4 linked regions of the Homo sapiens genome follow. The protein of the gene in region 4 purifies or fractionates together with the protein of the main gene of each other region. This does not show direct contact. Each region holds a gene or a part of one and is shown on either strand. Other genes may lie near its edges.

The links.
Region 1: the proteins of CCP110 (region 4) and CARNMT1 purify together in Homo sapiens (co-immunoprecipitation; one large-scale study listed by IntAct). This does not show direct contact.
Region 2: the proteins of CCP110 (region 4) and ACTR3 purify together in Homo sapiens (affinity purification with mass spectrometry, with the first as the bait; one large-scale study listed by BioGRID). This does not show direct contact.
Region 3: the proteins of CCP110 (region 4) and CEP131 purify together in Homo sapiens (co-immunoprecipitation; one large-scale study listed by IntAct). This does not show direct contact.

Annotation. Positions count from the first base shown.
Region 1 is NC_000009.12:75,021,794-75,025,293, forward strand, and holds part of CARNMT1 (carnosine N-methyltransferase), read right to left. Parts: intron 1-3,500.
Region 2 is NC_000002.12:113,896,589-113,900,088, reverse strand, and holds part of ACTR3 (actin-related protein 3), read right to left. Parts: intron 1-3,500. UniProt on the Homo sapiens protein: ATP-binding component of the Arp2/3 complex, a multiprotein complex that mediates actin polymerization upon stimulation by nucleation-promoting factor (NPF).
Region 3 is NC_000017.11:81,189,096-81,191,965, reverse strand, and holds the end of CEP131 (centrosomal protein of 131 kDa), read left to right. Parts: intron 1-615; coding exon of another isoform or gene 616-630; coding exon 631-773; intron 774-881; coding exon 882-1,059; intron 1,060-1,163; coding exon 1,164-1,327; intron 1,328-1,990; coding exon 1,991-2,051; coding exon of another isoform or gene 2,052-2,122; coding exon 2,123-2,197; 3' UTR 2,198-2,370; downstream 2,371-2,870. UniProt on the Homo sapiens protein: Component of centriolar satellites contributing to the building of a complex and dynamic network required to regulate cilia/flagellum formation.
Region 4 is NC_000016.10:19,544,442-19,547,941, reverse strand, and holds part of CCP110 (centriolar coiled-coil protein of 110 kDa), read right to left. Parts: intron 3,146-3,500; coding exon 3,044-3,145; intron 2,849-3,043; coding exon 2,732-2,848; intron 2,126-2,731; coding exon 2,052-2,125; intron 1,531-2,051; coding exon 1,468-1,530; intron 1-1,467.

The DNA of each region.
Region 1 (3,500 bases), on a different chromosome or scaffold from region 4:
CAGGCGTGGTGGTGCATGCCTGTAGTCTCACCTACTTGGGAGGCTGAGGTAGGAGAATTGCTTTAGCCCAGAAAGTCAAGGGGGCAGCGAGCTATGATTGTGTCACTGCACTACAGGCTGCGTAACAGAGCAAAAACCCTGTCTCCAAAAAAGAGAAGAAAAAAAAAAGTCATCTAGCATCTTACTTTTTTTAAGCTGAATACTGACAAATTATAATTGTCTATATTTGTGGGGTACAAAGTGGATGTTCATCATTCCATCTTAGGTAACCATCAGTGACTTAGCTATTTCCCAACTACTGGGCATTTAGACACTCACTTGTTTTTGTGATGAACATTTTGTGTTCAAAATCTGTCTATAATTTAGGAAAAAAATTAGCATAAACTCTCAAAACCAGAATTACCAGGTGAGAAGGAATACTTTTTTTTTTTTTTTTTTTTTTTTTTTGGAGATGGAGTCTCACTCTGTCACCTAGGCTGGAGTACAGTGGCATGATCTCAGCTCACTGCCAGCTCTGCCTCCCAGCTTCAAGCGCTTCTTCTGGTTCAGTCTCCCAAGTAGCTGGGACTACAGGTGCACACCACCATGCCCGGCTAATTTTTATATTTTTAGTAGAGATGGGGTTTCACCATGTTGGTCAGGCTGATCTTGAACTCCTGACCTGAAGTGATCTGCCAACCTTGGTCTCCAAAAATATTGGGATTATAGGCGTGAGCCCCTACACCTGGCCAGGAGTTAGTATTTTTAAGGCTCTTGATATAAAATGATGTGCAAAAAGACTCCATAAATTTACATTCCTAACAGCAGAGTATGACATTAAAGGAACTAAAATGGCCACATCAAGTTAGGCAAACAGCAGAGCTTCAACAGTTGAACAGCCTCACAGAGCTTTCTTCCTAGTGTTTACTCCCGGGCTCTGGATGCCCCACAACTTCCCTCTCACCATACTCAAAACTCATATCCAAAGTGAACTTAGCACATGCCCCACAAAAACCTGCCCTCCTTCCTTCATGGCTAAGATTAACAAATGCACCCAAGTTAGAAATTAAAGGAGTCATCAGCCGGGCATGGTGGCTCACGCCTGTAATCCCAGCACTTTGAGAGGCTGAGGTGGGCAGATCACTTCAGGTCAGGAGTTCGAGATCAAGAACATCCTGGCTAACACAGTGAAACCCTGTCTCTACTAAAAATACAAAAAATTAGCCAGGCATGGTGGCATGCGCCTGTAATCCCAGCTACTTGGGAGGCTGAGGCAGGAGAATCGCTTGAACCTGGGAGGCAGAGGTTGCAGTGAGTTGAGATTGTGCCACTGCACTCCAGCCTGGGTGACAGAGCAAGACTCAAAAAAAAAAAAAAAAAAGAAAAAGAAATTAAGGAGTCATCCTAAATGCCTCTTCTCCTAGTCCCACAATCAATAAACCCAGGATACTTTTCAATTCTACTTCCTAACTCCTCCCCTGCCCTTCCTGCCCCACCTCTAATCAGAAGAATTATTCTAAAACACAAGTGTCATCTTGGTCATTATTCAATATCTCCGTATTTCAGCATATGTAAAAAGCAATAAATGTTCAGTTATATTCCCACGGGTGCCACTTTTGGTTTTCCATGGAGACTACTTATCACCAAGTAATATCAAGGTTGCAAGGGTGAGTTGAGATAAGTTATAGATTGGTTACAAGAGCTGTCAATTTTTGATACAGAAGTAACTACACAGAGCAGGATGAGATCCTTAAACCCCTGGTTACTTAATGGTGTGCAAAGCTGCCATAACATACATCCACCAGTGACTCTTAAAATAGGTGGGATCTTACTAAAGTTGAGAATATAGTCCAATCCTTATTATACCCTTATAACTGGGGCTAACTTCACTATCCTGCACATGCTTACGCTATCAGAATTGCTTTAAGGCAGGGGCCCATTGGCTACCTGGTTTTTGTACAGTCTTATTGGTACAAAGCCACACTATTTGATTACACAAAGCCTAAGGCTCCTTCCATTCAAGGGCAGAGTTGATGAGTTGTAACAAGAGACCACTTGGCCTTCAGAGCTTAAAATATTTACTGCCTGGCCCTTTTAAGAAACTCTGCCAAACCTGCTTTGAAGGAGTATTTTACAAAAATCAGACTCTCCTTGGTTCTGAACTAAGTCAGCATCAGGAGGTGACATCCTCTTGCTGATAAGAGGAGAAAGTAAACTTAGTAGCCATTTTTCCCCAATGGTGGTATCTCTACCTCTAACTCTCTCTAGAAACCTGGTGTCAGCAGTGACCTCAACTCTGATTTAGTCACCTGTCATCAGGGTGAGCCCACACCAGGTCTGATCTAAAGGCCATGGTCACAGGCCCATTCCTCTGCACCTAGTTGAACTACTCTAGGAAATCCAAATAGAAAAAACATAACTTGTCAGAAACAAAGCCTGGCCTGTCTTGATTCATTTTAAATCTTTATTAAATACCTAACATTAAATTTGTGTTACTAGTATAACTCCTCATTAATGCACAGTAAAATTTTAGGTAACGATTTTGGATTTTAGGTCAGATTCTACCACAACTGGATTGTGTAACCCTGAGCAAGTTGCTTACCGCTTTGTGTCTATCCACATCCTCACCTGTAAAAATCAGTTCTAAATCTCAATATTAAAAAATCTCACCCCGTTATTTCTAAAAGTAAGAAGTTTCTGAAAAGACTTTCAGCTTTTCAACTCTAGTGTTTTCTATGTGCTGAGGTGCTTCATTCGTAACAAGACTGGGTTATAAAACTAACATTTTTGCTATTCAATACAAATGAGCTATATCCATTTTTACCTTAATGAGAATGTCATCTAAGCAAAATCTGTGGGAATCACAAAATTGAAACCCATTAGAAAGAGAAAATATTAATCAAAAGACATTCCTTGCTTTATGACCTTTTATCTAAATCTCCTACGTATTAACTAAAAGACATTTTGCAGTAAAATTGAACCCTGCAAAATCTGGACGTACAGCTGACCCTTGAACAATACTTGGGTTGGGGCACCAACCCCCTGTGCAGTCGAAAACCCACACCTAACTTTGATTCACCAAAAACTTAACTACTAATAGCCTACTACTGACCGAAAGCCGTACCAATAACATAAACAACTGACAGATATGTTGTATGTTAATATATTACGTACTATATTCTTACAATAAAGCTAAGAAAATATTAAGAAAGTCGTAGGAAAGGGAAAATACATTTACACTACTGCACTGCATTTATCAATACTATAAGTTTACATAATTTGATTACAAGATGAATCCTCTGTCTGAAATGGGGTTGGGGGGCAACCTCCAACTGCAGACCTCTATCTACAGTACATATCAAACAAATCAACTTTTTCTTGTAATGTCTTTTTTCTCTGCTTCTTGGGAGCACCTGCAGCATCACCAGTGGCACGTCATATGGGACCCATGGTGTTATTTAAGGTTTATGGTATTGCATTAAATTTGATGAAATCTGTTTACTGCTATATGCAATTTACTT
Region 2 (3,500 bases), on a different chromosome or scaffold from region 4:
CTCAATAAAGCTGTATAAAGTAAAATACTAGACCCAGACTAATAGTGCATAAATTTACCTTTTATCACTCTTTTGCTTAATGATCTACACAATCCACTACTGTCTATCAAATAAATCGCAAACCATTCTGCCCCATTTAAAATCCTTCTGAAATAAGGCAAGATGAGTAAATAAACTACTTGCTGTCCCACAGCTCCCAACAGAAATATCTGAATTCCAGGCAGGGCAATTTCCTAACTGACCCATCCCCCAAATACTTTGAAACTCCTTCATGACTTCCCTTTATCAGTAAAATATTTGCTGGGCATTATTAAATATCATGCAGGACGCTATCACTTGAATAGAGAATGCACAAAAAAGAAATAATCCCTGCCACTATGGAGCTTTCAATTTAGCTCACATCCTAGATTTGAAGTCCTTCTTCCCATATATCTATCACATCCTATTTATGCTTTTCCAAGGATCTGATCAAGTTCAGCTTCTTCATAAATCATCCTCCAAATACTACAGCCCTTATTAATCTGCCCAAACAATTAAATGCTAGTAAGCCATCCATAATTATTTCACACATATTAGTTTCATCTTTGAAACTAAACTGTAAACCTCAAGTATAAAATCATGCCTTAGTTTTCTTGTATATACCATAGTGTTCAGCACAGAACTGAGACTGAAATAAATACTTGATTACTTTAAGTTCTTCTATTTTTTTACTTTCATATGTGTTTTGTGCAGTCATTAATGAGCACATAATACATAGTGAGTAAAATAATTACAGTAAGTAATGCATCAGTGGAGATTATTCATTTTCAAATTGCAGCTTCAGAAATATGTATGCCTTCCTTTTGAAGATATATGTAATTAGCATCATTTCCTTGAGCTGCCCTGAATTTATCAGCAATTATCAGTCCTTGCAATACTCAAATAAGCAGTAAGCAAATCCATATTTCACTTTAATGTGTTATAGGTTAATCAAATCAGTGAACTGGTCACTAAGACCTCCCTATATGTTTCATATTTGTACTAAAAATTAGTAGCTTTGGGTTTAAGTATGTATAAAATGGACACTCTTAAAAACTGGACTAATAATTTGACCACTCTCCTTGGATGTATCTCAATTAGGGAACAGTAGAGCAGTGAGCTCTGGAATGAGACTACCCCAGGACTAAAATTCTAAATCTACTACTTATCTTTGAAATGGGATTATTTATAACAGTAACTACCTCACAGGGCTTCTGAAAAGGTAATAACATCCAAAACAAAACGTGCAAAGGGCCTTGAAATGGCTGATTGGTACACATCCCATTTAATACATCTTTAATAATTAAAATCCAAAGATATAAATCTCTGAAACCATAAAGAAAAATTTTTTTAAAGAGAGCATTCATTTTATGAAAGTCATCTGTCCTGGCACCTACAGAGCACAACTTTTAAAATATCTCTAAACTTGGTTTAAAACATTATTATTGGGAAACATAAAATTAGTTTCTCATGTGTGCCATACAGTATGCCTCTGCATTACAACGAAACACTGAAGAATTCTGATGTAGGCTTCAACTAAAACTACTTTAACTATAAATAAAATACATTATGTTATTCCAATTACTTAATTTCAACTATTAACTCATAAATGTGAACTCACAAGAAAATTTAAGAGAACTCAACAATACTATCAATTAATAATTAGGAACACTCCCAAAAGACATTTCTCAACTCTGAGCCTCTGTTTCATTTGTAAATGAAGACTGGATTAAATTATCTCTCAAAATCCCTTTTCAGCTCTATAATTCTGTGTGAGTCATTAGGCATTTCCCTTAATTTACTAAAGCAAGTTTCACAAATACACATTAAATGCTATATTTGTACCCTTGAGTAACTGAATTTTAAAAATGCTTATAGCAGAAGCACACTAGATTTAACTAAAATAATCTCTATAACTAGGCAAACACTTGTGTCCTGTCATACACTAATACTAAAAACATGGTTTACATGTTTACAGTAGATTAAGCCAACCCTAAACTACAAGGTCTTCTGCACCCTAATTCTCTCTCTAGGACTTTTATCCTCCTCATTGTAACCTCTCCTTTACACTAAATACTGAAAAGCACAGAAACCCTTCCCAAGAGCATTGCATTTTCACAAATGACACAAAGTCTTAAAGCAAGGACAAAATGTTTAAAAATAAAACGTTTAGGTAATGTCCTTCGGCAGGAGGAAAACATGGCATGTTGAGTATCCGAACAGATGAATATTCTTCTCAGGTATGTATTAGGGTTGGGGAGCAGAAGGAAAGCTGAAAGAATACATCTGGCCGAGACGGGTGGATCACTTGAGTTCAGGAGTTCAATATCAGCCTGGCCAATATGGTGAAACCCGGTCTCTACTAAAAACACAAAAATTAGCCAGGCATCGTGGCGGGTGCCTATAATTCCAGCTACTCGGGAGGCTGAGGCAGAAGAATAGCTTGAACCCTGGAGACGGAGGTTTCAGCAAGCCAAGATCACGCCACTGCACTCTAGCCTGGGTGACAGAGCAACACTCTGCCTCAAAAAAAAAAAAAAAAAAAAAAAAAATAACATCTGGCCACACAAATTCAAGCTATTCCTTTCCTGGTTCCAAGGAGTATGTAAGAATGGCTTGAGTTTAAATCGACAGTTTGGAAAGAATTTTGAAAATTCTGAAACAAAATTATTATTAAAATTCTGCAAAATCGTCCTTTAAAAAAACTAGAATTTTTTTTCTTTTTTTTGCTCTGGTATTAGTCAATTATGTAGGTTACGTTGTTTCCTGATATAAAGGCCCATATAAAGTTATAAAATCAGCACACAAACTAATATTAGTCACTATCCTATTTCAAAGAACTAAATTTAAAACAATCCAATAACATCACCTTATCTCCTATCTAATAATTCATAAATGTCGTGTTTGGTAAGCTACAGCACACATTTTTGTAGTGCTATTATTACTTAATTGCTTTGCTCTTGCTTCTTTATGCTACTGTCTATCACTGATTATGGTTGTGTCATAAAAAAGGCAACAAGCTCCAACAGAATTACAAGGGAGCATTCAAATGCTTTTTTTATTATAGTGGAATTTTGTTTCAGGAAACACATGTTGCTACATTTTAACCATTCCAAACTTCTGCTCCTAGTCCAATCCTTTAGCTGTTTCCACAAGTTGGGGGAGCAGGAGCATGCTGGACAAGGGAAATTTAGCTAGAGCTAAACTCTCCTCCTGATTAAGGATTTTGCCTCTTAGAAAATTGAATGACATAGGTGGAGATAAGATTGTCAGCATAGCGATCAATTACCACGAGCCAATCAGTCACTGTGATGCTCAAGAAGCTAGATCACATATCCACAATTTTTTTAAAGAAGGGAAACTGATATTCAATCTTTCCGTTCTTTTCTCTCTGAATGCTCTCATCTTATTAGCTTCAGTTAACAAATTATGATTCCCAAATATCCACCTTCATTCCCAAAGGTCCTGTATTTTTAATTTCC
Region 3 (2,870 bases), on a different chromosome or scaffold from region 4:
AGCCTCTGGGGCCTTCTGTGGGGGGTGGACTCTGCCACGGTGACAGTCCCACACACATTCTCACCACCCATGCCCGCCGCGAGGCTACAGTCCAGGCTGACCGTGCCCGTCACCTGGTTTCACACCCTGGTGGGCTGGGATGTCACCGAGCAGCCAGGCAGGCTTTGGCAGTGGATGCCTCTGGGCCCAGTAGCATGCTCCCGACGTAGCCCTGTGGGGCCCAGGGCTGGACAGATGAAACTCTGGGAGTTTTCAGAGGCTTCCAGGAGGCTGCCAGCTTAGGCTCTGAATGCCTGGGCTTGGGGGCCCAGGCCCCGCCCTCAGCAACACGCAAGTCCAACTTTCCCATCCCATCTGGTAGCAGAAGGTGGCCTCAGGTTGTCATGGGCTGTGGGTCTCTGAGGGAGGGGACCGTGGGCTGTGCATCATGACGATCTCTGGTACGCCTATGCCCACACTGGGTCCTGACAACAGGACGTAGCGCACCCCTGGACAGGGGTCTGGAGAGGGGGAAGGCCCCTTGCTCCCCTGTGGCTCAGAGCCTGGAGCCCCCCAGGACCCCCTGAGGCTGGCCCTGGCCCCGCGGGCCGGCTCCGGGTGGCAACCCCCAGGCAGCGCATGTCCCCCCAGGAGGCGTGGCTGCTGAACCGGGAACAGGAGCTGAGGGAAGAAATCCGGAAAGGCCGGGACAAGGAGATTGAGCTGGTCATTCACCGGCTGGAGGCCGACATGGCGCTGGCCAAGGAGGAGAGTGAGAAGGCTGCCGAGAGCCGGTAAGGACCCGCCATGGCTGGGTCACCAGCTGGGGAGGCCCACGAGCTGAGGCGCAAGGACCCGTGTGTGACTGGGCTGGAGTGACCCTGCCCTCCCCCCACCTCCAGCATCAAGCGCTTACGGGACAAGTACGAGGCCGAGCTCTCCGAGCTGGAGCAGTCGGAGCGGAAGCTTCAGGAGCGGTGCTCGGAGCTGAAGGGCCAGCTTGGGGAGGCCGAGGGCGAGAATCTGCGTCTGCAGGGCCTTGTGCGGCAGAAGGAGCGGGCGCTGGAGGATGCGCAGGCGGTGAGTGGGCGGGTGTCAGGTGGGCAGTGGGCACCCACAGGCCCCTCCTGCATGCACGCAGCCAGTCGCTGGCAGCCGGCTCACTGCCTTCTGTGCCCACCCAGGTGAACGAGCAGCTTTCTAGCGAGCGCAGCAACCTGGCCCAGGTGATCCGCCAGGAGTTCGAGGACCGGCTGGCAGCCTCTGAGGAGGAGACGCGGCAGGCCAAGGCCGAGCTGGCCACGCTGCAGGCCCGCCAGCAGCTGGAGCTGGAGGAGGTGCACCGGAGGTGGGCGGCGGGGGCTGCAGGGCTGGAGACGGAGGCGGGGCAGGGGAGCGGGCAGGACCTCTGCAGCTCCAAGCCCCAGGAGGCTGTGGCTGAGGAAGGCCAGGAGATGCAGAGACAGGGCCCTGTAGACAGAGGCTGGTGTGGGTTCCATGTTTGGGGCCCAGGAGACCTAGATCTGTTTTCCTCCCTGGTGCTTAGTCTAGGGTGTCGGCCATCCCTGTTGGGGCACCCGAGTGGGTCGGGTCTGGGCCTGGCGAGTTCTCCAGGGAGTCAGCTCCCGGGGCCCTGGGCTGGGTGGACAGGCGCTGAAAGAGCTGGGGCACTGTAAGGTTCCCAGCGAGCTCCCTCCACGGGGGTCCTGCATCCTTCCTGTGCCATCTGCTGCCACAGGCTGAGAGGTGGGTGTGGGCGAGGTGTCCCACCCCATCTGGGTACCAGGCCTCCCCAGGTGTGGCCAGGGTCATACTCCAGTGGCCTGTGTTGGGTCCTGACTCACAGCAGGTGGGTTGCCTGGACAGCTGTCTGGGCCAGCCACAGGAGTCGTGGTCAGCAGGGCTGGGACCAGGCTGACCAGGCGGCTGCCCCGTGCACCCTGTGCACTGCAGGCCACTCTGGGGACATGGGGCGGGGGCCACACTGAAGCCTACCATGTACTACCCACAGGGTGAAGACAGCCCTCGCGAGGAAGGAGGAGGCCGTGAGCAGCCTCCGGACACAACATGAGGTGAGTCCCTGTGGCCAGCCCTGCTGGACCTCGGGGCTGGGAGCAGGCCTGACCCTGTGGGTGTGCTGCAGGCTGCGGTGAAGCGGGCCGACCACCTGGAGGAGCTGCTGGAGCAGCACAGGAGGCCCACGCCAAGTACCAAGTGACCAGGGATGCCGGGAACACTGTCGAAGAACGGAAGGCAGAGGACAGAGGCTGGACGTGGGCCCAGAGGCCCACAGGGACGCCCACCTGCCCCCCACAGAGGCTGGTGGTTGAGATGCCCACGGCTAAGCACCTGTGGCTGCATTTTAACAGTAAAGGAGGCCGTTGTTTTCAGCGCCTTGAGTGACTGCCTTGTCTTCTCTCCTGGGCTAGAGGCTGCCCAAGACCCCCAGAGCAGCCAGGCGTGGGTTTGGCTCTCTTCCTCCCACTCCCCTCCGCAGCCTGAGCAGGCTGACCAGGAAATCACGAAGCTTGGCCATCAGCCCCCCAGCTAGCAGCCCTCAACACTCAGCCAGCAGCCCCCAGCACTCAGCCAGCAGCCCCCCTGCACTCAGCCCTCAGCTCCCCAGCATTCAACCCAACCCCCAAGTTCCTGTTCCCTGCCTTGCCCTGGACCCTGGAAGTCCCAAGCACAGGGAATTCCCTACCCCGTTCCTGGCCAGGCGCAGGAGGAACTCAGCAGAACTCACCCCCTGGGAGGAGCTCCGAGGGCCCCGCCGTGGCCCTGCAGGTGCTGGAAGCCCATGGCTGCCAGCGTGCTCCTATGGCTGGAGAGACTCCAGAGGGACAGGAAGCCCTACCCTCCCCGCTGTCAAGGTGTGACAGTCTGGAGCT
Region 4 (3,500 bases):
AAATGAAAAATTAATTTAATAGGTTAAATTCCATTTTTTCCCATTTTCTTTCAACGGATGAAAGATGATGACTGTAAGGTAAAGGTCAACTATGCAATAATATGGCCTATATATTACCACAAATCAGAGCAAATCGACTAAAGCATATTAATATGATACTTGTATTTTGCTCACTAAGAGTCCAAACCTTAGGTTTTTATCAGCAAAGAAATGTCCAACATATAGACTAACCCTTGTGCTTTTAGATAATTTTCTTATACATATGCTTTACAAAAGCTAACTTTTCCCTTCAAACCAGTGAGAGAAGAAAGTATCACTCTCATTTTACAGGAGTAAAAAACAGGTCAGAAATATTAAAGTTCGCTTTTTAGCTTTATTTTTTATTTATTTATTTTTTTGAGATGGGTCTTACTATGTTACCCATACTGGTTTGAATTTCTGGGCTTAAGCTATCCTCCTGCCTCAGCCTCCCGAGTACCTGGGACCATAGGAGCATGCCACTGTGCCCAGCTTAAGTTAGCTTTTTTTTGAGACGGACCCTTGCTCTGTCGCCCAGGATGGAGTACAGTGGTGCAGTCTCGGCTCACTGCAACCTCCGCCTCCCAGGTTCAAACAATTCTCCTGCCTCAGCCTCCTGAGTAGCTGAGCAGGCACGCGCCATCATACCCGGCTTTTTGTATCTTTTATTTTTGTATTTTTAATAGAGACAGGATTTCACCATCTTGGCCAGGCTGGTCTTGAACTCCTGACCTCGTGATCCACCCACCTCACCCTCCCAGACTGCTAGGATAACAAGCATGAGCCACTGCTCCCAGCCCAGCTTAAATTAGCTTTCTAAGGTTTTTAAATAAGTATCAAAGATCCTCTGGACTGTCTAACTGAACTCAAGACATACCACGCTCAAAATTTCTACCACAGATAGCATGTCCTACAAAAGGTCCGGGCACATCTGGTCTGACATGTGACTAGGTATATGGCCAGGTATTGGTATGAATCTTGAGCCTGAGGACGACCCCCGACCCAATTCAGCAAGAAGTGCTCTACTGATGTCAAGTAGAACAAAGTCAACAAAAATGAAGTTTGGGATTTAAATTTTAATTTTTTAACTTTTTTTTTTTTTTTTTTTGAGATAGAGTTTCACTCTTGTTGCCCAGGCTGGAGTGCAATGGAGCAATCTTGGCTCACTGCAACCTCTGCCTCCCGGGTTCAAGCGATTCTCCTGCCTCAGCCTCTTGAGTAGCTGGGATTACAGGCATGTGCCACCACACCCAGCTAATTTTGTATTTTTAGTAGAGATGGGGTTTTCCATGTTGGTCAGGCTGGTCTCAAACTCCCGACCTCAGGTGATCCATCCGTCTTGGCCTCCCAAAGTTCTGGGATTACAGGCGTGAGCCACCGTGCCCAGCCAATTTTTTTTTTCTATAAAAAACAAAAAGCCTCTCATTAAGACTAAGTGATTTTTCTCACCTTGTTTCAGAAGGATTTTGTTTAACCAGAAATTTCTTATTTGGCATTCCCATTTCAGCAGCTCTAACACAATATAAAAATAAGGACATAATGTATTTAGAGAAGGGAAGAAAACATGCTTACAAATGTAATACAGGATGACAGAAACAAATCATCATTTAGAAGCTGGTGTACTACTGGAAGACCTGTACTAAGCATATTAAAGACTGCATTCAAGAAAGAAGAATTTTTTAAAAAAGTTATTAAGATATTTTTCCCATTAAGTCTTTATTCCCAAGAAACCTTTAGGACATCAGAAAAGGAATATATTTAGGCACTGAATATAAAGATTAACTGTTTTTAAGATTAACCAGCTATCAGTTATATGAGTTGAATGTTGTCAAATTTAGTAAATAAATTCATCTAAGATGAAATGAGATTTTAGCACCTGATTTTAATAAATTTCTTTATATAAAGGGGATTTCTATCAGCTCAACTGCAGAAAAATTAACTCTTTATTTCTAAATTTAAATATGCAAATAGACCAACAGATGACTAAAATTAATTGGTTTGATAACTAACATGACATGATACAAAAAACTTACTTCATGTATTTCTTCCTATCAAGAGACTTCTGTGTTGCAGCTGAAAGAGCCACTCGTGGACTTTTCATTTTATCCTTTAATATACAAAAGTAACGTCAAACTCTACTGGAACCAATTAATACCACTATATTATAATGTATTATAATCCCACATTGCCTGGAAAAGCTTCTCTCTACTAACATTTTTAATTTAGTTAAATCATCTTGTTTTGTATTTTTGAAGCAGTCTAATTCTAAGAATTAAATAATTAGAATTATGTAAATTTTGCTTGCTTTTCCTTTGCCAATCACACTAAGATAACTGATTCAAATCACATACTCTGATATACTTCAAATTAACTTGGAGCCTGTTTTCTAACTCAGATTTCAAAAAAAGCAAAACCCACATTATAATTGAATTCAAGGAAATTCAATCAGGAGCAGCTGATAGATTGTATAAGCCATCTGAGCAAAACATTCAAAGCTTCAACTCTAAAATCCAATAAGAAAACAATATGTAATTCTTAAATGATGTAATTCTTTTAAATCTGTCTACAGATTTAAATGCTGCTAGTAATTCCAGGAATTACTTGTGCTTAAGAATTATCAGAAGAAGGGTGCTGAAGTCAACCAAAACTGACATTTAGTATCAATTACCCTAAACCCAGAAGAACTCTATTCATTAGAAATCATATAACATACCATTTGCCTGAGCATTTTCTCTTTGCGAACTTCTCGATCATGATGTAGAATAGACATTCTTTCAGCTGCATCCATTACAAAGAATATGTCATGAATACCGTACAAGGCAGCTCGCAACTAGGCACAAGAGAAGAAAATATTGTATACATTTAAAAGATGAGGTTAGAGTTCAGGAATACTATATACCATGTACACTTATTTATAGAAAAAGATTAAAATAGTTTTCATTGAAACCTATTTTCAGTGATTAAATAAAAAAGGAGAAATATAATATGTCCATGTCTTAAAAGCCTTCAGGATCCATGTATTTACCTGAGCTAACACTCTTTCCTGAAGTGAAGCATCTTGAGCTGAAACAATGCCTCTCTTTAATGGTGCTTCTGACTGAAAACTTCTTATGAATTCCATAGTATCCTGAAAAAAGAAATGCTCCTTCAAAAACATTTTTCTAGAAAGATTTGTGATCACTGGAGTTTGCTTTTTTCTTTTTCTCAGTCAATCCAAAATTACAGTCTTTCGTCAGTATCTGTGGGGGACTGGTTCCATGAATCCCTCAGATACCAAAATCCAAGGATGCTGGAGTCCCTTATATAAAATAGTTATCTGCATATAACCTAAGCACATCTCCCATATACTTTAAATCATCTCTAGATTAGTTAAAATACCTAATAAATGTACATGCTATGTAAATAGTTGTTATATTGTTTAGGAAATAATGACAAGGAAAAAAAATTTGTACATGTTCAGTACAGACACAACCATCATTTGT